Homo sapiens: one gene and its partners. The protein of the gene in region 1 interacts with the protein of each later gene in a pairwise test. Each region holds a gene or a part of one and is shown on either strand. Other genes may lie near its edges. The genes, in order: CEP70, C8orf33, AGBL2 and NEBL.

Region 1 (7,027 bases):
ACCCATTAACTCGTCGTTTACATTAGGTACTTCTCCTAATGCTATCCCTCCCCCATCCCCCCACCCCACGACAGGCCCTGGTGTGTGATGTTCCCCTTCCTGTGTCCAAGTGTTCTCATTGTTCAGTTCCCACCTATGAGTGAGAACATGCAGTGTTTGGTTTTCTATCCTTGCGATAGTTTGCTCAGAATGATGGTTTCCAGCTTTATCCATGTCCCTACAAAGGACATGAACTCATTCTTTTTAATGGCTGCATAGTATTCCATGGTGTATATGTGCCACATTTTCTTAATCCAGTCTATCATTGATGGACATTTGGGTTGGTTCCAAGATTCTGGTATGTTGTGTCTTTGTTCTCATTGGTTTCAAAGAACATCTTTATTTCTGCCTTCATTTTGTTATTTACACAGTAGTCATTCAGGAGCAGGTTGTTCAGTTTCCATGTAGTTGTGCGGTTTTGAGTGAGTTTCTTAATCCTGAGTTCTAATTTGACTGCACTGTGGTCTGAGAGACAGTTTGTTGTGATTTCTGTTGTTTTACATTTGCTGAGGAGTGCTTTACTTCCAACTAAGTGGTCAATTTTTGAATAAGTGTGATGTGGTGCTGAGAAGAATGTATATTCTATTGATTTGGGGTGGAGAGTTCTGTAGATGTCTATTAGGTCTGCTTGGTGCAGAGCTGAGTTCAAGTCCTGGATATCCTTGTTAACCTTCTGTCTTGTTGATCTGTCTCATATTGACAGTAGGGTGTTAAAGTCTCCTATTATTATTGTGTGGGAGTCTAAGTCTCTTTGTAGGTCTCTAAGGACTTGCTTTATGAATCTGGGTGCTCCTGTATTGGGTGCGTGTATATTTAGGATAGTTAGCTCTTCTTGTTGAATTGATCCCTTTACCATTATGTAATGGTCTTCTTTATCTCTTTTGATCTTTGCTGGTTTAAAGTCTGTTTTATCAGAGACTAGGATTGCAACCCCTGCTTTTTTTTGCTTTCCATTTGCTTGGTAGATCTTCCTCCATCCCTTTATTTTGAGCCTATGTGTGTCTCTGCACATGAGATGGGTCTCCTGAATACAGCACACTGATGGGTCTTGACTCTTTATCCGATTTGCCAGTCTGTGTCTTTTAATTGGGGCATTTAGCCCATTTACATTTAAGGTTAATATTGTTATGTGTGAATCTGATCCTGTCATTATGATGTTAGTTGGTTATTTTGCCCATTAGTTGATGCAATTTCTTCCTAGCATTGATGGTCTTTACAATTTGGCATGTTTTTGCAGTGGCTGGTACTGGTTGTTCCTTTCCATGTTTAGTGCTTCCTTCAGGAGCTCTTGTAAGGCAGGCCTGGTGGTGACACAATCTCTTTGCATTTGCTTGTCTGTAAAGGATTTTATTTCTCCTTCATTTATGAAGCTTAGTTTGGCTGGATATGAAATTCTGGACTGAAAATTCTTTTCTTTAAGAATGTTGAATATTGGCCCCCACTCTCTTCTGGCTTGTAGGGTTTCGGCCAAGAGATCTGCTGTTAGTCTGATGGGCTTCCCTTTGTGGGTAACCCGAGCTTTCTCTCTGGCTGCCCTTAACATTTTTTCCTTCATTTCAACCTTGGTGAATCTGACACTTATGTGTCCTAGGGTTGCTCTTCTCGAGGAGTATCTTTGTGGTGTTCTCTGTATTTCCTGAATTTGAATGTTGGCCTGTCTTGCTAGGTTGGGGAAGTTCTCCTGGATAATATCCTGAGGAGTGTTTTCCAGCTTGGTTCCATTCCCCCCATCACTTTTGGGTACACCAAACAGACATAGATTTGGTCTTTTCACATAGTCCCATATTTCTTGGAGGCTTTGTTCATTCCTTTTTACTTTTTTCTCTAAACTTCTCTTCTCGCTTCATTTCATTAATTTGATCTTCAATCACTGATACCCTTTCTGCCACTTGATCAAATCAGCTACTGAAGCTTGTGCATGTGTCACATAGTTCTCGTGCCATGGTTTTCAGCTCCATCCGGTCATTTAAGGTCTTCTTTACACTGTTTATTCTAGTAAGCTATTCATCTAATCTTTTTTCAAGGTTTTTAGCTTCCTTGTGATGGGTTTGAACATCCTCCTTTAGCTTGGAGAAGTTTGTTATTACCGACCTTCTGAAGCCTACTTCTGTCAACTCGTCAAAGTCATTCTCCATCCAGCTTTGTTCTGTTGCTAGTGAGGAGCTGCGATCCTTTGGAGGAGAAGAGGCGCTTTGATTTTTGGAATTTTCAGCTTTTCTGCTCTGGTTTCTCCCCATCTTTGTAGTTTTATCTTCCTTTGGTCTTTGATGATGGTGACCTACAGATAGGGTTTTGGTGTGGATGTCCTTTTTGTTAATGTTGATGCTTTTCCTTTCTGTTTGTTAGTTTTCCTTCTAACAGTTAGGTCCCTCAGCTGCAGGTCTGTGGGAGTTTGCTGGAGGTCCACTCCAGACCCTGTTTGCCTGGGTATCGCCAGCAGAGGCTGCAGAACAGCAAATATTGCTGCCTGATCTTTCCTCTGAAATCTTCATCTCAGAGGGGCACCTGGCTGTATGAGGTGTCAGTCGGGCCCTACTGGGAGGTGTCTCCCAGTTAGGCTACACGGAGGTCAGGGACCCACTTGAGTAGGCAGTCTGTCCGTTCTCAGAGCTCAAACACCATGCTGGGAGAACCACTGCTGTCTTCAGAGCTGTCAGACAGGGACATTTAAGTCTGCAGAAGTTTCTGCTGCCTTTTGTTCAGCTATGCCCTGCCCCCAGAGGTGGAGTCTACAGAGGCAGGCAGGCCTCTTTGAGCTGCGGTGGGCTCTACCCAGTTCAAGCTTTCCTGCCGCTTTGTTTACCTACTCAAGCCTCAGCAATGGCAGATGCCCCTCCCTCAGCCAGGCTGCCACCTTGCAGTTCAATCTTGGACTGCTGCGCTAGCAGTGAGCAAGGCTCCATGGGCATGGGACCCACTGAGCCAGGCATGGGATATAATCTCCTGGTGTGCCACTTGCTGAGACCATTGGAAAAGCGCAGTGTTTGGGTAGCAGTGTCTGGATTTTCCTGGTACAGTCTGTCACGGCTTCCTTTGGCTAGGAATGGGTAATCTCCCTACTCTTGCACTTCCTGGGTGAGGCAATGCCCCACCCTGCTTCGGCTCGCCCTTTGTGGGCTGCACCCACTGTCCAACCAGTCCCAACGAGATGAACCAGGTACCTCAGTTGGAAACGCAGAAATCACCTGTCTTCTGCATCAGTCACACTGGGAGCTGCAGACTGAAGCCTTTCATATTTGGCCATCTTGGATGCCCTTGGGTTTATTTTTAAAAATGCATCATTATAGTCTTGTTTTTCCCCTTTACTAGTTAGAAAATTATATACTTCTGTTCAGTTCTTCAGTGGATGTCCTAGAAATTCTCAAGCATCCTTAACTTATACAAAAGCCCAGTGTTAACAGATACCTTTACCAGTGTCCACCTCCATTGTAAACAAACTTAGAACACTGTTACTCCATTTACCCTACTCTCAGCTAATATATTTCTGTTACTGTGCATTTTAATTGTACATTTTATACTTCACAAGATCTCATTATGTAGTCTGTGTTTAAACTCGCCCATTTTTTTGCTCTATTTTTTTCTACATCTCTGCTTTTCCATCAGGGAGTCTTCTGCATGAAGCAGCTTCTTTAGAATTTTTTTACAGAGCAGATGCAATGAACACTCTCAGATTTATTTTGTGTCATGTGTTTGAAAATATATTACTTTTGCCTTTATTATTCGTTAATGAATGTTTTCACTGGCTTTGGAATTTTAGATAAGCAATTATTTTCTTTCAGCACATTGAAGATATTAGTGTCTAGGTATGACTGACTTTTTTTTTCTTTTTTCTTTTTTTTTTTTACTGTATCCCAGTTGCAATATGTTGGGTTTCTAGAATGTGTGGATTTATGTCTTTCATTGATTCTCAAATTTTTCTTAGCCATTAGCTCTTCAAATGCTCCTTCTACTCCATTCTTTCCTCTGTTCTTGGGTACCAGTTATGCATTCTGTGGTGGGGGGTTAGACAGGACAGAGTGTATGTGTGTGTGTGGTATATGTGTAAAATCCCAGAATGCTTTATTTCCAGAGGAGAACATTATAAGATAGGGTTTATTCAAATGAGTCTTACAATCAGCTATCTAAGAAGTCACAAAGTTTTGACGCAGGAATGACCTGAATTGCCCTGCAAGAGTAGTGGATTCTTTTAAATATACTTTTCTTTAACTCCTTTTGCACTTTTTGTCTTTTTTCATTTAGGCAACTCAAATTTTTTAATTGCCAATTTCTGTTTCTTTTGATTCTACAAAAGTAACTATGTTTCCGGTAGCCCCTAAACCCCAGGATTCCAGTCAACCATCAGACAGACTCATGACTGAAAAACAGGTAAACTTAAAATATTTTAAGACACTGCTTCTCAAAATATGTGCCAAAGAATGCTACATCTACAAACAGGAAAATTTGACTTTAAAAGGATTCTTTCTCAAATAATTTTAGGAAATGCTGGGTTAAAGACTATGAAATGGTTTAATTACTCTAAGACTTCACAATATTAGTCTCCAAAGGGAGGATTTAGTATACAGCATTTCATACATACTTAACACTAGTTTGATGAACATTTCATTAGACTAGTGTTCTGTAGCATGTACTTTGGAAAATGCCATTCCCAACTATTTTCAGAATTTACAATTACTTTATCTTAAAATGTAAGAGGTATCAGGAAACAATATGTATAAGTTAATCATTCAAAATATGTGACTTTATTATGTATAGAGCATTTTGTTTTTATGAGTTACAGTAGAAGTTCTGAGACACTAACTCAGAGCTTTTGGCTCCTAAAACAACATCAATGTTAATTTTAGTTGTGTCTACCACGTAGTTAAACTCTGTGATCAGAAAGACTAAAGCATAAATGAGAGAAAAGTTATGAGTGGGAGGAGATGTAAAAAAAAGGAGGAAGAAGTCAACAGTCAAAAAGAAAGACTTGTTTGACTTTGAGAGTGTCTTTCAGGGTGATTCTGTTAGAGTCAGTTATCCAGATGGACGGGCTCCTTTTTATAGTTAGACCTTGTCCATTTGACAAGGAGCTGTCTGAAATATTGGCTCCAACTAGTCAGGTATGTTTTGATTTTTTTGTGACCCTAGTCATTATGAAAGTGATACTTAGGGGCTGGGGCGGTGGCTCACGCCTGTAATCTCAGCACTTTGGGAGGCCAGGGCGGGTGGATCACCAGGTCAGGAGATCCAGACCAACCTGGCTAACACGGTGAAACCCCATCTCTACTAAAAATACAAAAAATTAGCCGGGCGTGGTGGCGGGCGCCTGTAGTCCCAGCTACTCGGGAGGCTGAGGCAGGAGAATGGTGTGAACCTGGGAGGCAGAGCTTGCAGTGAGCCGAGATCGTACCGCTGCACTCCAGCCTAGGTGACAGAGCAAGACTCTGTCTCAAAAAGAAAGAAAAAAGAAAGTGATACTTAGAAGTGACTCACCTTTTCTTTTCTTTACTATCCAGTTATTATAGCCTAGTTTACAGCTGTTTATTCTGAGCAGGGCTTGGTTTGGCTTAGTTAAATCTAAAACCTTAGATTTATTTGATTCACTGAAATTACAAGGTGTTTTTGTTGTTGTTGTTGGTTTTGTCCATTGAGGCCTACATATGAGTATTCTGTATAATGCAACAATTTGTGCTTATTTACATACTTCTAGTCTATTACTAATTTTGCTAGAAACAATAAATGTGTTTTTTGGATATTATATATGCATAAACATTTATACTTAAAACTTTTGAAGAAAAAGTTCTATTCTGAAAATGCAGGAAATTATATATGAGAGAATTTCTTCACTTTATATCTAAAGTTAACCCTTTCTTCTCTTTCTGTAATTGTAGCAGGAAGAAGCAGAATGGGAAAGCATAAATGTGCTATTGATGATGCATGGCTTAAAACCTTTGTCTCTAGTCAAAAGAACAGATCTCAAAGGTAATTAGATCCTATTCTTGATGCTTAAGGTAAAAAGTTTATTTTTCCTTAAAAAATTTTTTTTGCCTTTTATTTTTACTATCTGTATTATATACTTTTTAAATGTAGATCTCATCATTTTTGACAAACAGTCATCACAAAGGATGAGACAGAATTTGAAATTGTTGGTGGAAGAAACATCATGTCAACAGAACATGATACAGGAGCTTATAGAAACTAATCAACAGCTTAGGTGAGAAAATGGAAAAGATTTCTTTTGAATTGTTTGTATGCGTTCTAAAAATAACTGCCTTGAAAAAAATCTTGAAATTTAATTTCCCATTTTGATTAAATATTAAACTAAAAAATATTTTTGTAGGTAAAATTTTAATAGGTAAATCTTTTGGTAATAGCTTAGCATAGATGTTTAATGGTACCCTATATTTCTTCTATTAGTTTCTGTTGCAGGATGAGCATCTCAAATCTGAAAATCTGAAAGGCTCCAAAAATTGAAACTTTTTGAGCACCAACATGATGCTTAAAGGAAATGCTTATTGGAGCATTTTGGATTTTGGATTTTCAGATTTGAGATGCTTAACTAGTAAGTATGATGCAAATATTCCAAAATCTGAAAAAATCTGAAATATGAATCACTTCTGGTTCCAAGCATTTTGGATAAAGAGAATGCAAAGAAACTTTAGAAAGGCAATACATTCTTATATGGATATGCTTGGTAATTCGATTTATTTTTAATACTAAGGGAAGAAATTGTATGTCTATTAACTTAGAAATGAACTTCAGCTAGAGCAAAGCCGAGCAGCCAATCAAGAACAACGAGCTAATGACTTGGAACAAATTATGGAAAGTGTGAAATCCAAAATTGGTGAATTGGAGGATGAATCACTAAGTAGGGCTTGCCACCAACAGAATAAAATAAAAGATCTTCAAAAGGAGCAGAAAACTTTACAGGTACTGAGTTATGAATTCTTAGATGATGGTTAGTTAGTACTAAAACAGCTCATTATGGTCCCAGGTGACTTCCATGTTGTTT
Region 2 (7,015 bases), on another chromosome or scaffold:
CCACTTTGCAACAGGCATCTTCCCAGACACTGGTGTTACTGCTAGACCAAGCCCTCTGGTGGCCCTGTCCGGGCATAAGAGAAGGCTCACACTCTTGTCTTCTGGCCACTTCGCACTATGTCCCCTCGGCTCCTATCTCTGTATGGCCTGGTTTTTCCTAGGTTATGATTGTAGAGTGAGGATTATTATAATATTGGAATAAAGAGTAATTGCTATAAACTAATGATTAATGATACTCACATATAATCATGTCTATGATCTAGATCTAGTATAACTCTTCTTATTTTATATATTTTATTATACTGGAACAGCTCGTGCCCTCAGTCTCTTTCCTCGGCACCTGGGTGGCTTGCCACCCACATAGGCAGTCATGCCATTCACTGAAAAGCAGAAGCCAAAGGAAAACCGGAGCCTAATCAAGTGTTTTAAACACATCAGGTTTGAAATGCCTATGAAGCACCCAAGTGGAAATGCTGAGTAGGCAGCTGGGCTCCAGGTATCAATCTAGTCTGGGAACTGAGTTTGGAAGATACCAGCAAACATCAAGCCACCAATGAGGATTAGGTCACCTGGAGATTCCCAATTCCATGGAACAGAGGGCCTGAGACTGAATGGCCAACATTTAGACAAGAAGTCTGCCAAGGCTCAATCCAGGTCTCAGGCCAGAACTGTTAGCGCAAGAAGCTCCTTGCTCCTAAGAACAGAGCCTGGCCTGGTAGGTGCCATGCTGGTTCCCTGAGGATGATACCTGCTCAGGAATGAAGGCAACATGCACAAAGGTACCAGGTGAGGGACTGGACCCAGGGATACCACACCCCTGCATCTTCTGTACTTCCTCTAACATAGGTGGTCAGCATACTCTTTCACTCCTTATCCAATTTTATCAAAAATAGAGATTAGGGCAATATGACATAACAGCATTAAGCACTAAACCATTTGACAGGGATTCCTTTCAAAAGTGAAAACCAGTGTACGATTATACAGCTTCTCCACTAATCTTTGTTACCAACAGCCACTTAATCTAATCCTAAAGACTGAGTACAATATTCCTTCTACAATACTTTGAACACTCACTTCAATTTATTGCATATTTTCTAAATGCACCTCTCTCTCTCTTCTGAAAGAGAGAACATTTCATCAGAAAACGAACGGGGTCTTTTGCCTATCTGATGGTCTCACACCTTCACAACAGCTACAAATCCTTGGACCAGCCAGGGACAGACCAACTCCAGGGTTCTCTGACAACAGAAGTCCTGGAAAGGCTCTGCACTCAAAACAAACCCCTACACCACCCCAAGGGAGGGGGATTGTTTCAGGTTCGGGGAGACGCTAAAAGAAATTGAACCTAAACTCTTCATCAGGCATGTCCAGAGTGGCTTTGGCTCTCCATATAGAGCGAGGCCTGCAGACCCTTTGGCTCTTCTTTCTGGTGGCTCCATCTACAGGTTGCACCTGGGCTGAATAAGCAGCTGTCGGGGAGAGAAGCAGCGTATGTCAGAACTGAATAATAACAATTAACATTACCTGTACAGTTATGTTTGCCCATACAATTCTAACCACCTTGCATAAATTAACTGATTAATTCCTCAAATTTGTAAGGTTGATATTACTATCATCCCCCACTTAGAGAGGTTCAGTAGTTTGCAAAAGGTGTTAGTACTACTATGTGGTAGATCCAGGATTTGAACCTAGCTGATCTGGCCCCAGGAATTGCACTCAAACTGTTATGGGATATGGCTTCATTGCTAGTAGAGAAAGCCAAGACACAAAGACATGAGGCAGCTTTCCCCAACCCAGGAGCAGGACCAACATAGGACCATGCTCTTTCCCACTCCTCCCAGGGCCTCCCCGCTGCTTCCCAGGTTCAGTCCTAGGAAGAGGAAAGAGAGGTCCACGCTTTCTGTTTCCCTGCTCCCTCAGGCTTCCCTGAGCCCATCTCCTTCCCCCACCAGGCTTGTTGCTCTGGGCCTTCTTCCTTTCACCCCCTAGACACTTCCTCCTTAAGTTAGGCCTTCCTGAATCAACCAGTGGCTAGCTCCTCACCAGCTCTGAGAGCCCGCAGGGCCTCACGCCATTCGGCTTCCATCTGAGCCCTATAGTCTCCAAACAAGGAGTGCATCAGCTGCCTCTTCCGGGGCAAGGGCGTTCTTTTGCTGCGCAGGGTTCGGATTGCTCCAATAGCCTGCTCTTCTGCGAATAAAAATAAAGGACTAGTGAACACCTCTATTACTGACCTCCTACCACCCCGCCGCAAAGCCAACAACTCCATACTCTGCCAGCACCTGCAGGCCAGGCAGTGCCACTGTTCACATCCCCCAGCTCTACAGAAGGGTCCCTTACTCTGTTTCGGGGTGGGTTTCTGCCTCTTGAGGCCCAGCTCCAGTTGCTCCACACACCAAGCCAATTCCTGGGCCAACTGTTGTGCCTGTGATGGATTTGGGGAAGTGGCTGTGAGAGGGCACTGGAAAACCATAGCCGCCGGCCCCATCCCATGCCCCTCCCCGCCTTAACTCCGCGGACCCCAGATCACACGTGCCCGTGGATTCGCACCCGTGGATTCCACCCTTCCCGACCGAAGCCCGCCCTTGCCTGGGCCTCAGCGCTTAGGGGAACTTCTTCTGGGGCGAGTTTCTCTGAGGCCTTCTCGCCTCCATTTGCCACAGAGGCCCTGTTCCGCGTTTTCTTCTTATTCTTTTGTTTTTTCGACGCTGTGCCGCCTTCATCGCCCAACGGGTGCGCTCTGGAGTCAGCGTTACTGCACGTAGGTTGCTCTGGGCAGAGACAGACAGTGGAAGGATTCCGGGCGCTGGAAACTGGGCCGGGAAGCCGGGCTCCGCGGGACGCGCAGGGAGTACCCGGGCCTGGGGCCGCCGCTGCCTCCCCAGCAAGATGTCCCAGGGCCTGGAGAAAGGGGGGTAGCACGAGGGTCACCGAGAGCCGCCAACAATGCAAGGCCCAGCCACCCGCGCGTCTTCTCCACACCGCTCACCGCCATGCGCCGCAGTCGCCACCGGAACTACGCGGGGCGCAGAGTCCGACGCCGAATTCCGTCCTTCAAGAACGCGCCTGCGACTCTAGGTTCCGCGGGGCGCGGGCGGGGCGCGGGCGGGGCGCGGGCGGGGCGCGGGCGGGGCGCGGGCGGGGCGCGGGCGGGGCGCGGGCGGGGCGCGGGCGGGGCGCGGGCGGGGCGCGGGCGGGGCGGGGCGCGGGCGGGGCGCGGGCGGGGCGGGGAGCGGGCGGGGCGGGGCGCGGCTGGGGTGGGATGAAGCTGGGACGGGGCGAAGCTGGGACGCGCCTGGGACGAAGCTGAGATGGGGCTGGGGCGGGGCCTGGGGGTTCGGGGAAGAGGCTGAAGAGGGGTCTCGGAAGAACCCTTGTGAGCGAGTGATCGCGGGCGCTGACTACGTGCCCGGCACCTTTCCGGATAAAAGTTCAAAGCTCTCCACGAGGGTGTGTCTTCTCAAGGCTCACCTTTTGGTGGGGAGGGAAAAGCAAGTAAACAGCACGTGAGCAGCTACGGCGCAAGAGGGTGGTCGGCAAAGACCCTGGGAAATGGGGAAGAGCGAGGGTCAGGGCGCGGTCGTTTGAGAGGCCGGCGTCTCGGGACGTGGAGGCTCGGGTGAGGTCTGAGAGTTGGGAGGGCCCCCGTCATGGGCTTACTTCCGTTCTAACGCAGTGGGAAGTCGCTGCAAGATGTAAATCTGAAGAGTGGCATAATCGTAGACGTATGTTCTGCAGATCTCTCTGCTCTTGTGTAACGAGTGGGGCACATGGGGTGGAGGGACGTGGAGGGGTTTCAGAAGCAGACGCGGGAAGAGCCTTGGACAGGATATGGACGTGAGGGAGGGTGGCGGTATGGGGGAGAGGGAGAGCCCCATCCCACCACCTCTCTTCCCCTGGATGCTTCCCTCCCACTATACCTTGCTAGAGACCTGGGGTCACACACAACACTCGACCCCCGCCGATGGAGGCATGACAACCGAGAGGAATTGCGTAGGGGTTGAGGTGAGGCTGAGTAGGGTTTCAGGGGGGCAACGGGCTATGCCAGGAGGGTGGGTTGTGTTGCTTGAGAAGGTAAGAGTCCGAGATGTCTGATGATTCCTTTCGGGGACACAGGAGTGGAAAGCGGTGTTTCCTGAGACGGTGGGGTGGGAAGTGTTAGCTGCCTGGTCTGCAAGGTCTCGAAGGGTTACAGTTTGGTCATCACTGATAGTTATTTACTGCAGTGTGATACATTACTCCCAAAATTCGGCGGATTGGCCGGGCGCGGTGACTCACGCCTGTAATCCCAACACTTTGGGAGGCCGATGCGGGCGGATCACGAGGTTAGGAGTTTGAGACCATCCTGGCTAACATAGTGAAACCCCGTCTCTACTAAAAAATACCAAAAAATTAGCCGGGCATAGTGGCGGGCACTTGTAGTCCCAGCTACTCGGGAGGCTGAGGCAGGAGAATGGCATGAACCCGGGAGGTGGAGCTTGCAGTGAGCCAAGATCGCACCGCTGCACTACAGCCTGGGTGACAGAGCGAGACTCCATCTAAAAAAAAAAAAAAAAAAAAAACACGCAGAATTTAAACGGGACACGCAGTAAAGGAGATGCGGCATACAGTAATTTATTACAAAGGAGAAAGAATATTTGGAAAGTTAAGTGAACAATAGACAGTACACCCTGAGAGAGAGAGAGAGGATTGAGGGCCAGCTGCTCATAAGGTTGGGGCAGCAAAGACGCATGAGGGAGACTCCCTTTATGGGGGTCTTACATGATTATTCATAAGGAATTGGGAAGAGGTGCTACTAGTGAGTATGTTCTGGATGGTCCTCTGAGTGCACATGTGCGGTAGCTGTATGTTCTTACATGCTTGTTCATACAATGCTTCTTGTCATACAATGCTTGTTCTACATGCTGGTATATGATTGTTCGTACATGTCACATGTCTTATTAGCATCTTAAACCTCCAACCAGGGCTCTGTTTTTTACTATTATAATGAGCGAAAGGTCAGTCTGAGGACAGGTAAAATCAAAATGTACATGCTCTTTGCAGGGGAAATTCTCTACTGAAGATAGTTTTGCTTGAAAGAGCTTAACCACAATGTGAAGGCAGAGGCTTATTGTGCTGATTGCACAGTCACAACAGTTGCTGCATCCCGAGGACATGGTTACTTCCTTGACTACCTATCCTGCCTCACTTTCAATGCTCTGATTTTATCCATTACCTTCCTGACTCATATGCTATTTTTGTCTTGACTTCATTTCTATCTTTGTTTTTAAATCTGCCATATTAGACTTAATTCTATTTACAGTCAGTGTTTTCAAATATACAACTTTTGTTTTTCTTAGAGTCCATGTCTCACTCTGTCACCTAGGTTGTCCTGGGCTCAACTGATCCTCCCTCCTGCCTCAGCCTCCCAAGTAGCTGGGACCACAGGCATGCACCATCATACCAGCTAATTTTGTAATTTTTTGTAGAGATGGGGTCTCACCAGGATGCCCAGGCTGGTCTTGAACTCCTGGGCTCAAGCAATCTTCCCACCTCAGCCTCCCATGCCTGGCATCATTCCTTATATCTCAGTTCTGATATCATTTCTTTAAATGTACATCCTTTTAAAGCTCCTTTAATGAAATCTGTTATGGTGTTTTGGGTTTTGCTCATCTGAAAATGCCTATTTTTATTCTAATTCCTGGAGGATAGTTTGGATAGAAACACAATTTGAGGTTAACAGTTATTGTCTCTCAGAATTTTGAAAATGAGCCATCTCTGTAGACCTCTCCCACCTCTGGGACCCCACTCAACCCTGTATTCTTACCTCTATTACTGTACTGATGTGGTTATCTGTCTCTACATACCTTTGTATCCCAACTAGACTGAGAGATATGAGGAAAAGAGGCCAAGTGTTTCTGCATCTCTGATTTGCCATTGTCAGGCACACTACCAGGCACATAGGGGCTGCACAGTAATTGTAGGTTGATGTAATCATGAATAACCTTGGATTTGAACTGTTGCCTTTCCAGTGCTATATTTTCTATGGTTCCTCTTGTGGCAGGAAACATGAGTCTTCAGAAAAGATTTTTCCATAGTTAGCAAATCACACCAAAATATTTATTAAGGGGCTGAATGAATAAGGCAATGGGATGGGTACGGTGAAAGAACAAGAGAAGTACCCTGACCTTGAAGGACACAGTTTAAGAAAACAGATATCCAGGCTGGGCACAGTGGCTCCGCATATAATCCCAGCACTTTGAGAGGCCAAGGCAGGCAGATTGCCTGAGCCCAGGAGTTTGAGACCAGCCTGGGCAACATGGTCTCTACAAAAAATTTAAAAAATTAGCCGGTTGTGGTCCCAGCTACTTGGGAGGCTGAGGCAGGAGGATTGCTTTGGGCAGCGGTGGGAAGGGGGATGGTGCAGGGGCGGATGTTGCAGTGAGCCAAAATTCTACGACCACCCTCCAGCCTGGGTGACAGAGAAAGACCTAGTCTCAAAAAAAAAAAAGAAAAAAGAAAGAAAGAAAACATATATCTAAATATGTTTATATATACTGTGTCTCCATTAACATAATTACAAGTTTGGATCACATTTTACTTTTATTTTTTTCTCATTTTTTTCTATGATAAAGCCTGATTTTTTAAACTTAAAATTAGCCTGAAGACTTTGTCACAGTATTTATGTTCATAAAGTTTATTGATAGAGTGGATTTTCTGCTACTGAACAGGCTCTAAACTATTAAAGACTACATACCCTGATACTTAATAAGTTTTGACACATAATATAAGGTTTTTGCACATGCATGAGATTCATAGGCTTTGTCTCTTCTTTGATTCTTTTTGATCCAGAAAGTGGTATGAATTCTGTATGGTCTTCCCATATTCACTGTACCCATAGGGTTTCTCTTTACCTGGAACTGCCTTAGGTTCTGCAGGGGCTATGAATCTACAAAAAAACTTTCCTACATTTACTGTAGTTATCAGATTTCATTCCAATGTGAATCTGCTGATGTATAACAAGGGTTGGATTCTG
Region 3 (7,027 bases), on another chromosome or scaffold:
GTCAGGAGTTCAAGACCAGCCTTGCCAAGATGGTGAAACCCTGTCTCTATTAAAAATACAAAAATTAGCTGGGTGTGGTGGCGGGTGCCTGTAATCCCAGACCCTCGGGAGGCTGAGGCAGAGAATTGCTTGAACCTGGGAGATGGAGGTTGCAGTGAGCCGAGATCGCGCCACTGCACTCCATCCTGGGCGACAGAACAAGACTCTGTCTCAAAAAAAAAAAATAAGGAGAAGAAAAAAAAATAAGTAAAATAAATAAATAAATAAATAAAAATCCAATCTACTTTCTTCTTCTGAAAGCTACATTTTGTGGATCTATTTATGATGTGAAAAACCAGCTTCTACACCAATGAAGATTACCTGTATATGCCTGTCACAAAATTAGTCAATTATTAAAAACTTTTATATTGTTTTCATTAAGCTCTTTAATATCTTACAATTATTTGTGATCTTCTAGTATATAACCTTTCCTATGAAGACTCATGACATTAGCATTTTGCTTGTCCTTCAATCTCTTCTTCCAGGGTCAACCACCACAGGATAGGTGATAGATAACTGTATATGCAAGAATTTCAACTTATGGAGGGGCGCAGTAGCTCACGCCTGTAATCTCAGCACTTTGGGAGGCCGGGGCAGGCGGATCACTTGAGGTCAGGAGTTTGAGAACAGCTTAGCCAACGTGGTGAAACCCCGTCTCCACTAAAAGTACAAAAAAATTTAGCCAGGCATGGTTGTGCATGCCTGTACTCTCAACTACTCAGGAAACTGAGGCAGGAGAATTGCTTGAATCTGGGAGGCAGAGGTTGCAGTGAGCCAAGATTGCACCACTACACTCCAGCCTCGACAGAGCGAGACTCCGTCTCAAAAAAAAAAATAAAAAAGGATACCACATTTTATTTATCTGTTGATTGGTTGATGGACACAGCAATTCTTTTTTATTCTATTGTTTAGTAGTGGCAGGGGTCTCCCTATGTTGCCCAGGCTGGTCTTGAACTCCTGGGCTCAAGCAATATGCCCACCTCGGCCTCCCAAAGTGCTAGGATTACAGGCATGAGCCACTGTAGCTGGCAGGACACAGCAATTCTTTTTTTTTTTGAGATGGAGTTCTGCTCTTGTTGCCCAGGCTGGAGTGCAATGGCACGATCTCTGCTCACTGCAACCTCTGCTTCCCAAGTTTAAGCGATTCTCCTGCCTCAGCCTCCCAAGTAACTGGCATTACAGGCATGTGCCACCATGCCTGGCTACTTTTTGTATTTTTAATAGAGATGGGGTTTCTCCGTGTTGGTCAGGCTGGTCTCGAACTCCTGACCTCAGGTAATCTGCTTGCCTTGGCCCCCCAAAGTGCTGGGATTACAGGTGTGAGCCACTGTGCCTGGCCCCACAGCAATTCTTAAAACCACGCTTTTCTAAATTCTTGAAGTCTAGGTTGCTCGGATTTACCAAAGATAATAAAAAGAGATACAAAATGCCAAATAAAACACTACATATAGGAAGCAGTGAGTTCCCATGTCCCTAACTCAATGGAGAGAAAATTACATTATGTGCTTACCTTATCTGGTGCATTTTTGCATAACATTAAAGGAAAGACTCGTTCATGAAGCCAGTATTTGCGATTGTTGTTATTACAGCCATACAGGAAGATATTATTCTTACGACTGTGGCCATGGAAATCACAATACAACAGAACCTCTCTTTCTTCAAGAAGTCTATTGAGGGGGCAAACAAAGGACTCAGTGGACACCCAAATGCATACAAATAATTAAGGATCATTTGGTATCTCTTCCTTAAATACAGCTGTTAATACTTTCCCTCCTAAGAAAATCTCAACTCCATTGGCCTTCAATGGACCCTATCTCCATTCTCAGCCACTGCAGAAAACATGTCATCAGCTTGCCTTGCCAGTCAGAAGGACTTGAAATGGAAAATTTCTTTTTTTCTTTTTTGAGACAGGGTCTTGCCCTGTTGCTCAGGCTGGAGTGTAGTGGCCTGACCATGGCTCACTGTAGCCTTGACCTCCTGGGCTCAAGTCATCCGCCCACCTCAGCCTCCTAAGTAGTTGGGACTACAGGCACACACCAATACACCCAGCTATTTTTGTTTCTGGTTTTTTTTTTTTTTTTTTTTTTGTAGAGGCAGGGTGATAGAGTTTGGGTATTTGTCTCTGCCCAAATCTCAGGTTGAGATATAATCCCTAGTGTTGGAGGTGGCGTCTAGCGAGAGGTATTTGGATAGTGGGGGTGGATCCCTCATGAGTGGCTTGGGCCATCCCCTGGTGATACATGAGCTCTCACTCTGACTTTGCACAAGATCTGGTTGTTTAAAAATGTGTGACACTGGCCGGGCACGGTGGCTCATGCCTATAATCCCAGCACTTTGGTAGGCTGAGGTGGGTGGATCACCTGAGGTTAGGAGTTCGAGACCAGCCTGACCAACCTGGTGAACCCCATCTCTACTAAAAATACAAAATTAGCTAGGTGTTGTGGTGCATACCTGTAATGCCAGCTACTTGGCAGGCTGAGGCAGGAGAATCACTTGAACACAGGAGGTGGAGGTTGCAGTAAACCGAGATTGCGCCATTGCATTCTAGCCTGGGCATCAAGAGTGAAACTCTATCTCAAAAAAAAAAAAAAAAAAAATGGTGGGGGGAGGGGGGAGGGATAGCATTAGGAGATATACCTAATGCTAAATGATGACTTAATGGGTGCAGCACACCAGCATGGCACATGTATACATATGTAACTAAGCTGCACATTGTGCACATGTACCCTGAAACTTAAAGTATAATAATAATAAAAAAATAAATAAATAAATAATAAAAAAAAATAAAGTTTAGTTAGATCTTCCTACATGCTGTCTGCAATTCAGAAGGGTGCCTGGTGCACACAGGTAATGATACAGTAAGTTAATCCTTTAATTAATTAAATCCAGGCCCATTAACACCAGAACTGGGCTTTGACTGAACAGATAAAATATTTGACTTAATATCAACAGAGGGGACAGTATTATATGTTTTGTCCTACAAAAATATAGCTCTCTACTAAAAATGAAAAAGAACCCCACTTATACTAGAAATGATGGAAAAACATTCCCGTTATCAATTATTCATTGAAACTAAAGAATATTTAGTTTGGCTGCTAGCACAGTGCCTGGCACACAGTAAATATTCAATAAATGTATGTGAAATTGAAAAAAAAAAATGAACTCCGTCTCAAAAAAAAAAAAGTGTGGCACCTCCCCTACACTTATTCTCTCTCTCCTACTCCTGCTTTCGCCATATGATGTGCCTGCTCCCTCTTTGCCTTCTGCCATGATTGTACGCTTCCTGAGGGCTCCCTAGAAGTTGAGCAGATGCTAGCACCATGCTTCTTGTAAAGCTGCAGAACTATGAGCCAATTAAACCTCTTTTCTTTATAAATTACCCAGTCTAAGGTATTTCTTTCTTTCTTTTTTCTTTTCTTTCTTTCTTTTTTTTTTTTTTTGTTAAGACACAGTCTCACTCTGTCACCTAGGCTGGAGTGCAGTGGCGTGATCTCGGCTCACTGCAACCTCTGCCTCCCAGGTTCAAGCAATTCTAGTGCTTCAGCCTCCTGAGTAGCTGGGATTACAGGCGTGCACCACCATGCCAGGCTAATTTTTGTATTTTTAGTAGAGACGGGGTTTCACCATGTTGGCTAGGCAGGTCTCAAACTCCTGACCTCAAGTGATCTGCCTGCTTCAGCCTCCCAAAGTGCTGGGATTACAGACATGAGCCACCACGCCTGGCCAGATATTTCTTTATAGCAATGCAAATACAACCTAATACACGGGGTCTCACTGTGTTGCTCAGGCTGGTCTCCAACTCCTGGGCTCAAGTGATCCTCCTGCCTCGGCCTCTCAAAGTGCTGGGATTACAGGCATGAGTCACTGTGCCTGACCAGAAATGGAAAAGTTCTGATTTGGAAAGGGGTGGTGGGTAGCCTTGCGTAAGTTGACAAGGAAGTGCAAAAAAGCCTATTGAGAAAAAGCTCACCATGGTGCAGACCTGTGAAGAAAGAGAGGGAGGCAGAGAGTGGGCAGTTGCAGGAAAGAAAAAGAACCAAAGAAAGCCTTGATTCCTGACTTTCGAGGGCCAGTTCCTACAAGGCTCAGCTCTTCTTTGTCTCATGATCACCCAGGACACCTATTCCAGCTTTCCAAATATGTTCACTTTCCCCATGATGAGTATAATAACAACAATGCTACACATTTATAATATGCTGGGTACTATAGTAAATAGATCATGTGATTATCTCAATCCTCACAGTAACCACCCAAGGCAGGTATTATTTTTCCACTCTACAGATGAGAAAGCTGAAGCTCAGACACATTAAATCACTTAGCCAAGGTCACAGAACCAGCCAGCAGTAAAAACAGGTCTCAAACTCAGGCCTGTCTGACTCTGAAACATATGCTCTTTAGCTATGCCTGCCATGGTGCCATCTCAGCTCATTGCAACCTCTGCCTCCCAGGTTCAAGTGATTCTCCTGACTCGGCCTCCTGAGTAGCTGGGATTACAGGCACCCACCATCATGCCCGGCTAATTTTTCTATTTTTAGTAGAGACGAGGTTTCACCATGTTGGCCAGGCTGGTCTCAAACTCCTGACCTCAGGTGATCTGCCTGCCTCAGCCTCCCAAAGTGCTGGGATTACAGGTGTCAGCCACTGAGCCCAGCCCACATATTCTTATATGCTGTATTTTCATTTCCAATGGCATGAAAATTCCTTTAAGGTGGGTGCTATTACATTATAGCCTTCAATGCTTTTATACAGGCTTGAAAACTGCTGACTGATGTTATGATTCTTTCTTTGTGATAGGCAATATAAGATCGTAAAAGGAATTTAGACTCTGGAACCAGAGAGAGAGCCTGTATTTAAATATCTACTTTGTCACTTAATAGCTTTATGACCTTAGGCAAGTTACTTAACCTACCCACTTCTCAATTTTTTTTTTTTTTTTTTTTGAGATGGAGTCTCACTCTGCCACCCAGGCTAGAGTGCAGTGGCACGCTCTTGGCTCACTGCAATCTCTACCTCTTTGGTTCAAGCGATTCTCCTGCCTCAGCCTCTTCAGTAGCTGGGATTACAGGCACCCACCAGCACGCCTGGCTAATTTTTGTATCTTTAGCAGAGACTGGGTTTCGCCATGTTGGCCAGGTTGGTCTTGAACTCCTGACCCCAGGTAATCCGCCCACTTCAGCCTCCCAAAGTGCTGGGATTACAGCCGTGAGCCACCACGCCTGGCCTAGGTTCTCAATTTCTGTATCATACAACATGCGATATTGACTGTGCCTACCTCATAATGTTAATGTGAAGATTAAATGAGTCATGTGTGTAATGCACCTACCATACAGCTTGCCACTTCATGCATACACATTTACTAATTGTTAGCTACTATTATTATGATACAAGTCTCATCATGAAGACCTATGAACTCCCCTGAACTCTGACCTTTTCCATTCAATTATTTCACTTACAAGTGAAATGACTCTTGCTGAAATGTTGCATGTCCAGTTTCAACCCAAAGACAAGACATGATTTAAAAGTCTGAAAATTAACAAAGTCACTTGACTACAAAGAGACTGGTAAGGGCTCTGTCTCCAAAGTCATACTCAATTCCTTTAACAACAGAAGAGACCTCATACCCCATCAGGTAGGGATATCTGGTGCTAGGACTCATAGCAGTCACAGAAAGATCAACAGATAAAAAGTCTCACCTTTTGATCATGTTCCTGGTGTACCAAATACAAGGGAAAGACTCCTTCAGAATGGTTTTATAATGCCTGTTCAAATCCCTTCCGGCCAAGGAACACCGATAATTCCCCACAATCACACCATCTGGATTTAACATGGGAAGCACCTTGAAGACAAAAATATCTCTGAGGAGCTGGGCATCTGGGGAGTTGCTAAGGATGAAGTCCAAAAAGCCTTTCATAACCCAGGAGCCATTACTTTCTCCAGGGTGAACTCTGGCACTCAAGACCACAGCTTTCTTTGCAGCTGCCTCTTGAGGGGTCTGGGATGGGTTGGTGATGGTGAGCAAGTAAACGGTATTTCCTGCTAGGCTCCTGCATAAAGTTTGGAGCTTGCAGAACTGAGACTGGATAGGGTTGTTTGCCACTGACAGGAGGTAGCATTGCAAATCAGTGTATGTATATGGGTAGAAGTGTGCAAAGAAGCAAGTGTCCTGGTCATATGGAAACTGAATGGTCCACGTGAGACAGTAGAAGGGCTGCTGCCCATCATCCGTGTTGTTCTTGTAGTACTTGATTTCATTTCCTTCTCTCCTCCAGCCAATATTGCGGGTGTTGGCATCCAATTGGGAGTACAAGAGTGGCTTCATCCCTACAGTATAAAGACTCTTGGGTTTTAGCAAGTTGACAATGGTGAAGCGATAGGTAGCATCTTTTCTGGTGTTCTGAACACGAAAATAAAACCACTGAGTGTGTTTGTTAGTGTAGAGGTCAGTTCGCAAGGTGAGTTCATACTCATAGGTGTCTCTGTAATGGAGAAAATAGAACAACTCTGTAAGCTTACACCCTGCCTTAAAAAACAAATTGGGAAAATGTTGTTTTCTCCTGGTAAAAACAGGTCTTATTACAACAGAAAAATCTGCTACCTTAATCATTTATTCTCTGTAATCCCAGCACTTTGGGAGGCTGAGGCGGGCTGATTACCTGAGGTCAGGAGTTCAAGACCAGCCTGGCCAACATGGTGAAACCCCATCTCTACTAAATATACAAAAAAAAAAAAAAATTAGCCAGGTGTGGTGGCGGGTGCCTGTAATCCCAGCTACTCAGGAGGCTGAAGCAAGAGAATCACTTGAACCCACGAGGTGTAGGTTGCAGTGAGCTGAGATCGTGCCATTGCTCTCCAGCCTGAGCAACAGAGCAAGACTCCATCTTGAGGAAAAAACAAACAAACAAACAAAAACAATAAGGAAGTATATCTATGGTACTGCCATAGAAAAACACCTGAAATTTATGAAGTGGAAAAAAAATTTGCCAATTTG
Region 4 (7,027 bases), on another chromosome or scaffold:
ATTCAGGACATGTGAGTAATTCATAGGAAACAATTGAGAAGTTTATGTTTAAAAAACAAAACAAACAAAAAAAAAGTCCCTTTCTATAACAGAAATGAATATTTAAAATGTGGAATGGTGGCAAGCCTAGTTTTCATTCTGAGTCTGTGAGTGCAAGCTAAGTGTATCTTAGGGAATGCATATCTTATTAGATACACTTATTTAAAAAGTGTTATAAGCAAGGCACACAGCAAGGAAATATGATGAATGAAAAGAGAAATAATATCAGCTTCCTGCTGTCAATGGATCCCTGCCATAGTCAGTGATCAGACTGTGCAAACCACTTTATTCTCCTCTTATTTTAATAACTTCTGAATTCACCAGTCTCTCCAACAAAAGGGCATCAGATCCTAAAATAAGCTGTTTACAGCTGTACCAACAACTGGAAAAGAAAAACCTAGTTATAGACATACGGCAGAAATGGGGCTACAGCAAAAACAATTAATTTGTAAAATGGAACTGGAAATTTGCTTGTCTGTTTTTAATTAATATTATGTAGTGCTGACCATATGCCAGGCACTCTTCTCATTTAACACCTAATTAATTTAAGTTTCATACATATTATCCTCATTTTGTAGATGAGGAAACTGAGGCACAGAGAAATTGAGTAGCTTGGCCAAGGTTACACAGCTCGTAAGAAGTAGCAGAGCCTCCAACAAAAATAGAAGCAGCACAAATTGGCTTAATCTGAATTACTCAGAAAATCTCTAAACGTGTATTTTCATGCCTGATACAGAAGCTGGCTCATTGGAAAGTTTAATGTTGGCCAATTATGGAAATTTCAATGGAAAACAGTTCTTCCCAATAAGAACAAATAAACTGACTTCTGGATTGCCAAGTAAGTAAATAACTTAGAGTCATACATCTTATATTTTATAAAACAATCATAATTTCAACCTCAATGGTTTTGAGTACTGAATTCTGAGAGCCCACGGTCTAGACAGTTTCATGGTTTTTAGCAACGACCTCACCATCATTCCTGACCTCTGATGTGTGCAGGGCCTGGAAGTAAGCTGTACAGACTTTAGCAGTTCCACCCTAAGTGAGATAAATCAGAACCCCTGCACTATCCCTTAAGATAGTTCCATCCCTTTAGCACAAAGCAATGAAACTCTAATTTGGTGTCACATTGAATGAAAACATCACAACTCATCCATCCAACTTAATGTGATCCTTTTAAGTAATCAACTCAGGCAGATCAGCAAAGCTATCAATTGCCTACAAACATGTTTGGAATCCTTCTTCAGAAAATACTTCCAGAGTCACTTTAGTATAATCATCCAAGTTACTTAGTGCTGCTCTGACTTTAGCACCCTGGTTTTGTAAAGACATTACCCTGTCAAATTTAGCTTATCTCTAAATGGCCTTTCACTAGTACCAAAAAATAAGCTCCTACTTTTGAAGATGAAGAAAACCTAACACTGATATTACTGAGTGGCATATACCAAAAATATTCTTTAAGCTACGTAACTACATAATTCAGAGGTTAACTGCTCTGAAGGAGACAATAGTCTTCAGTTGTTGATACAGACTGAAAAATCAATAATCATCCTTCCTAGCCCTGCCTTATACTTCAGTATGATCTTTTCTGATATCTCAGCCACCATTCAACAAATATCCTTCTAGGATTTCTCCTGACTATAAGGAACAGATAGCAGGAATAAAAGTTTGCTCTCTTAATTGCAAGACTTTCAGATGGCTCTCAACTATTCCAGTCCAGAAATAATATTTTTAAAATGAGCTATTACTATTATGGAGTACCATCAGAACGCCCATGGCGTGTCTGTTTTTGATAAAAGGACCTAAACGCAATATGGTTATTTCTGCCACTTATGCACATGAGGTCAACAGAACAACACGTCAACCAAGCAGAAAAACAATTATTTTGTTTTTCTTTTTAAAGAAAAACAAAGTAATTGTTCAACCATTGTGATCACTCATATCTCTGCTGCTTCTTTGCTTAACAAGGAGGAACATTCTTTTTTTTATTATTATTATACTTGAAGTTCTAGGGTACATGTGCACAACATGCAGGTTTGTTACATACGTATACATGTGCCACGTTGGTGTGCTGCACCCTTAACTCGTCATTTACATTAGGTGTATCTCCTAATGCTATCCCTCCCCCCTCCCCCCACCTCACAACAGGCCCTGGTGTGTGATACAAGGAGGAACATTCTTAAAATTAGCAAGGTATTAAAGACAGAGCTTCCAATAATAGAAAAGACTTGAGATGATACCAGGTGAATGCCAGAAATCCCATTCCACATCGTACAAAAATAATACTTTACCTGCGGTCCATTTTAAATTGGGTACCACAACCAACATGTGATGAGGAGTCAGATGACTCAAGAGGGTAATTCTGAAGCTAGAGCAAGCATGATCTTTTCGACCACACACACCGGCCGACAAACGCCGTCAGCTTACCAACAATGATTCCAGGTCTCCTGTCCATCTCCACGATGTGAGGGTGGACCCCTTTATAGGCAGCATCGCTGACCACCTGGGTGTTCTTCCTCACTCTCTCTGTCACAGGATCGTCCACGACGGGAGTAAAGCCTCTCCCCTTTGTTTTTTCAAAATCTTCATGGTATTTTACCTGAAAAAGGAAAAATCATCATACTGAATTTTGCGGATAGTTACCTCTTTCACAACATTTTTATTAAATGACAGGTGTACACTGCACTGGCTGCGTGCAGATTGTCTACATGTATGTATCTTTTCCAAATACTCCAAAACTAAAGTCTGGAACTTCAGTTTCTTAGCATCAGAAATCAAGTGCTGATATTTTCACAAAGTTTTTAATCATTATAGCTCATATCTATTTTAAATTATATATAAAACTATATATATATTATTAATGAGAGCTTGTAAAAATACATATTCTCAAATCCTGGTTACTTCCTAAAATATACTAATTTAAATATAAATTAAATTTCCTATCTCTTCAACTTCAGTATGCAATAAAGTGATATCTATTTCCAGGCAATCATTCATGAAAATGGCATTATTTAAAATCAGTTTGAAATTTTATAGGTAACAATATATACCACTTTTAATATAATTACAAAAACTTATACTTCAAAATATACTTTTTTTATGTCCTGAAATTAGGTCCAGGAGATAGTTGTGTAACTGTAAATTATACTAGAAACCATTGAATTGAACACTTTAAATGGGCAAACTTTATGGTAGGTAAATTACATCTGATAATATAATTTTTAAAACACACATTTTTAAAAACACAGCTTTAAAAACACACTTCTTTTCATATCCTTTATGACAGGCAAACAGACCAAATTTTGTCTTAGAATTAATTGGAAAGAAGTCTACACAAATATCTTTCACACTATGAGTTTACAGTAGTCACGTTAGAAATAAAGACACACCAGAAAAAGTCACTGAGAAAAATCATTTTATTAGACTAAATGTTTCCACTGCATTTCAGTGTGATTAGAAATGCCCCTCCCTCAAAAGACAAGCCAACCACATTTCCATGCTTTGTTAGTTATCGGATTAATAGTGAAGTAATGCCATCCGTGCACTGGATCCGCCCATTCCTTAGCATGTTTTAAGAATGATCTGGTTGGACCCTACCATTGAAATATGATTTTGTGCTTCTTTAACATGTCTCATAGCAGGTGTATCTAAAATCAGACTTGGTCTACCTTTCATCTGTTTATGGTCCTGGGTATATTTTACCTGCAAAGTAAATAGTAGGCATAAGACAATGATAAGAAAACACATGATGTAACATTTTTAAGCTTTACAAATGAGTGAAACATATGCAACATACTTGAAATTATTTTCCAGGTAACTATTTCAGTGAATTAAATTTTGTTCTAGAATAGCAACCTAAAATTTTACAATCAAAGATCTCCTCCACCGCCTACTGCTAAATGACCTAAATCTATCAACTCTAAACAAATGTGTGAATGACCAATAGTAACTATCTATCTAGTCTGTAAACCTGCGCAAGCCCGAGGACTCGTATCTGTAATCACAGCACTTTGGAAAGCTAAGGTGGGAGGATGACTTGAGGCCTGGGATTTGAGACTAGGCTGGGCAGCACAGTGAAACCCCCCATCTCTACAGGTAAAAATTAAAAAAAAAAAAAAATTAGTTGGGCGTGTGCCTGTAGTCCCAGCTACTTGAGAGGTTAAGACAAGACAGCTGCTTGAGCCCAGGAGTTCAAAGCTGCAATGAGCTATGATTGTGCTATTGCATTCCAGCCCGGGCAACAGAGACTGTGTCTCAAACACACACATACACACATACACACACACACACACACACACAACTGGTTATCATATTTAAGTTAAACAGAGAAAATCCAAAACTATTAAATAGAACCCAAAGTTATTTTGTTTCTAAATTTCCCAATTTTCTACCATAAGAGTGTTAAAAAATGCATACAAGCTACTCTATTTCTTTTTATTTTTTTCTCTGCTTAGGGAATAAGAAACAATGAGGAACAAATTTAGTTGTTCTTCTAAGCAGCCACAACTTAAAGGTAATTTATGTTAAATACACACAGCATCTCTGGACAGAAATGTCACTAGGAAGCTGTAAATTGCAAAGCCTAAATGCTGATTCTCAGGCAAACAGCTATTCAGGGTATGCTAAGAAAAGGGCCTGTGTTCTTCACAACTGCCCATCAGAACACCGCCATTTATGAAACTGATTAGGTGTAAGATATGGATACCACTTACTGTGGACCTGAGGGCATTATGTACAATTCAGAATTGAAGCCCTGATATTCACTAAGAGGAAGCACAATATTCAGATAAGATACTCATGTACACCACTGGACTTTGGTGAGCAACTGAATTCTACGTTAACTGTATTTAAGGATTCTTTTCTGTAAGTCTTTAGTGGGGGTAATGATCCATCTCCTATTTTGTTTTGCAGACAGCATTTAACAATCCATGTTCAATGAAATATTTCAGGAAAATGACAATTATTTAACGCACACATCAAAGGCTTTACCACCTTCAAAGACACGGCTAACATATCATGAATCGTTGTTTAAATGAATATAATTTTAACCTAAGCTTTGAATGTAACTGTTGGTCACATCTGGAAATAACAAAGAGTTGCAAAATAATGTAAATGTTTGCAGTGGCAGCTTTTGGAAGTCATCTGAAATAACACATGTACTTATTGGACACATCACAAATGTTTCTTGAAAATAAGTTTTATTTTCACAAGCAAAGGAGGACCGCAAGTAAATAATAAAAGACACATCCTTTGTGATAGTCTAAAATGAAGAAAACCACTTGCCGAGCTAATATTTTCTTGATTCTTCTTCACTCTTTCCATTTCAGGAGTTACACTTAAAGTGGTAGCTCTTCCCAGCTGACCTCTGTAATAAACCTATCATTTCAGAGAACAAAAAATAGAATACTATGAATCAATTCAACAAAGAGACTTATTTATTTATTTAAGACAGGGTCTTGCTCTGTCACCCAGGCTGAAGTGCAGTGGTACAATCTTTGCTCACCACAGCCTCGATCTCCCAGGCTCAGGCAATCCTCCCACCTCAGCCTCCCAGGTAGCTGGGATTACAGGCACCTGCCACCATGCCTGGCTAATTTTTGTATTTTTGTAGAGATTGAGTTTTGCCATGTTGTCCAAGCTGACCTGAAACTCCTGGGCTCAAGTGATCCACCCACCTCAGCCTCCCAAAGTGCTGGGATGACAATCCTGAGCCACAGTGCCTGGCTCACAGTATTTATTTTAATGAGTTAGTCAGGGAAGTTTTGTAGGAAACTACAAAAAATATTTTCAGAGGTTGAGTTGTATTTAAAATGCTGGCATCTTAAATCAATCTATTTCATTTCATCCCATAAGAGAGTACATGTGTCCAAATCACTGTGGATGTACTCGAATACATAGGCATACCATCCGTAAAGCTGTAATAAATATTTAACCACAAAAGGAAATGAGAATAAATGTCTTCATGGAGATTACTTAAAGGTATTCACCGTAGACTGGTACTACATGGTCGTGGTTTCTTAGGAATTAACTGCGGCAGAATTTTTGTAAAGATGTGTTTAAATAGGTGACTGTGGGCATCCTTTAAAAAGCCAGCATGCTTCTCACTGGTCCACTCCTTGTCTAAATAACCATGTTCCTTTTTGAGAATAATGGAGTCACATCAAGTATGACTCTAAATATATGGGGGAAAGATGAGCGTCTACTTCTCTAAAATATAGTTGTTAGGAAAAGTATCAATCACCTGCCTTTGCATTATAAACTGGTAAAATGACTTTAAAGGTGTGAAGAATAAAAGATTTCTTTGAACGTAATAGATTTCCAAGTTTCCTCTTCCAAAGAACCCAATCTATATGTTAATGACTGTAAAAGAGGACTTTCTTCTTGAACTGCATCCGTGAATTATTTCAACAACAGGGAATCGGAGCAGGCCACAAGTTGGTGTCTAGGTAAAAACTGCCAGCCCCTTATTAAGTGCCCCCAAAATGGTCCTGTCCAATATAACCTATTCAGCCATGCACACATTATCATTTCTTCCTAGACTTTGCCCAAAAATGGAGTCATGATTGTGGGAAGTGGAAAGTGGGGCTCGGAGGAAGCGCAAGAACAGGAACACATGCTGGTAGAAAAGGGAGGGAAAATGTTTGTTTGTAGGGCCAGGATGCCAGAAGCTACGACTGTGGGACTTGAGGAGACCATAGCACCCATCAGCTAGATGACAAGATAGAAGGGATACACAACAACCTGTCAAAAAAAGTCACCCAGGCCCGGTGGCACACATCTGTAATCCCAGCACTTTGGGAGGCCAAGGTGGCCGGATTGCATGAGCTCAGGAGTTTGAGACCAGCCCAAACCCCGTCTCTACAAAAAATACAAAAATTAGCCAGGTGTGGCAGCATGTGCCTGTAATCCCAGCTGCTTGGGAGGTTGAGCTGGGAGGATCACTTGAACCCAGAAGGCAAAGGTTGCAGTGAGTCAAGATTGTGCCACT

The links.
Region 2: the proteins of CEP70 (region 1) and C8orf33 interact in binary tests that used the Homo sapiens proteins (3 or more experiments, as listed by UniProt).
Region 3: the proteins of CEP70 (region 1) and AGBL2 interact in binary tests that used the Homo sapiens proteins (3 or more experiments, as listed by UniProt).
Region 4: the proteins of CEP70 (region 1) and NEBL interact in binary tests that used the Homo sapiens proteins (3 or more experiments, as listed by UniProt).

What each region holds. Positions count from the first base shown.
Region 1 is NC_000003.12:138,570,236-138,577,262, reverse strand, and holds part of CEP70 (centrosomal protein of 70 kDa), read left to right. Parts: intron 1-4,278; exon of another isoform or gene 4,279-4,330; 5' UTR 4,331-4,335; coding exon 4,336-4,404; intron 4,405-5,906; coding exon 5,907-5,997; intron 5,998-6,105; coding exon 6,106-6,229; intron 6,230-6,736; exon of another isoform or gene 6,737-6,764; coding exon 6,765-6,945; intron 6,946-7,027.
Region 2 is NC_000008.11:145,048,472-145,055,486, reverse strand, and holds the start of C8orf33 (UPF0488 protein C8orf33), read right to left. Parts: upstream 3,021-7,015; 5' UTR 2,996-3,020; coding exon 2,990-2,995; intron 2,902-2,989; coding exon 2,590-2,901; intron 2,426-2,589; coding exon 2,341-2,425; intron 2,191-2,340; coding exon 2,044-2,190; intron 1,470-2,043; coding exon 1,330-1,469; 3' UTR 1-1,329.
Region 3 is NC_000011.10:47,684,344-47,691,370, forward strand, and holds part of AGBL2 (cytosolic carboxypeptidase 2), read right to left. Parts: intron 6,516-7,027; coding exon 5,733-6,515; intron 1,707-5,732; coding exon 1,550-1,706; intron 1-1,549. UniProt on the Homo sapiens protein: Metallocarboxypeptidase that mediates deglutamylation of tubulin and non-tubulin target proteins. Catalyzes the removal of polyglutamate side chains present on the gamma-carboxyl group of glutamate residues within the C-terminal tail of tubulin protein.
Region 4 is NC_000010.11:20,810,303-20,817,329, forward strand, and holds part of NEBL (nebulette), read right to left. Parts: intron 5,416-7,027; coding exon 5,323-5,415; intron 3,742-5,322; coding exon 3,637-3,741; intron 2,639-3,636; coding exon 2,467-2,638; intron 1-2,466. UniProt on the Homo sapiens protein: Binds to actin and plays an important role in the assembly of the Z-disk. May functionally link sarcomeric actin to the desmin intermediate filaments in the heart muscle sarcomeres.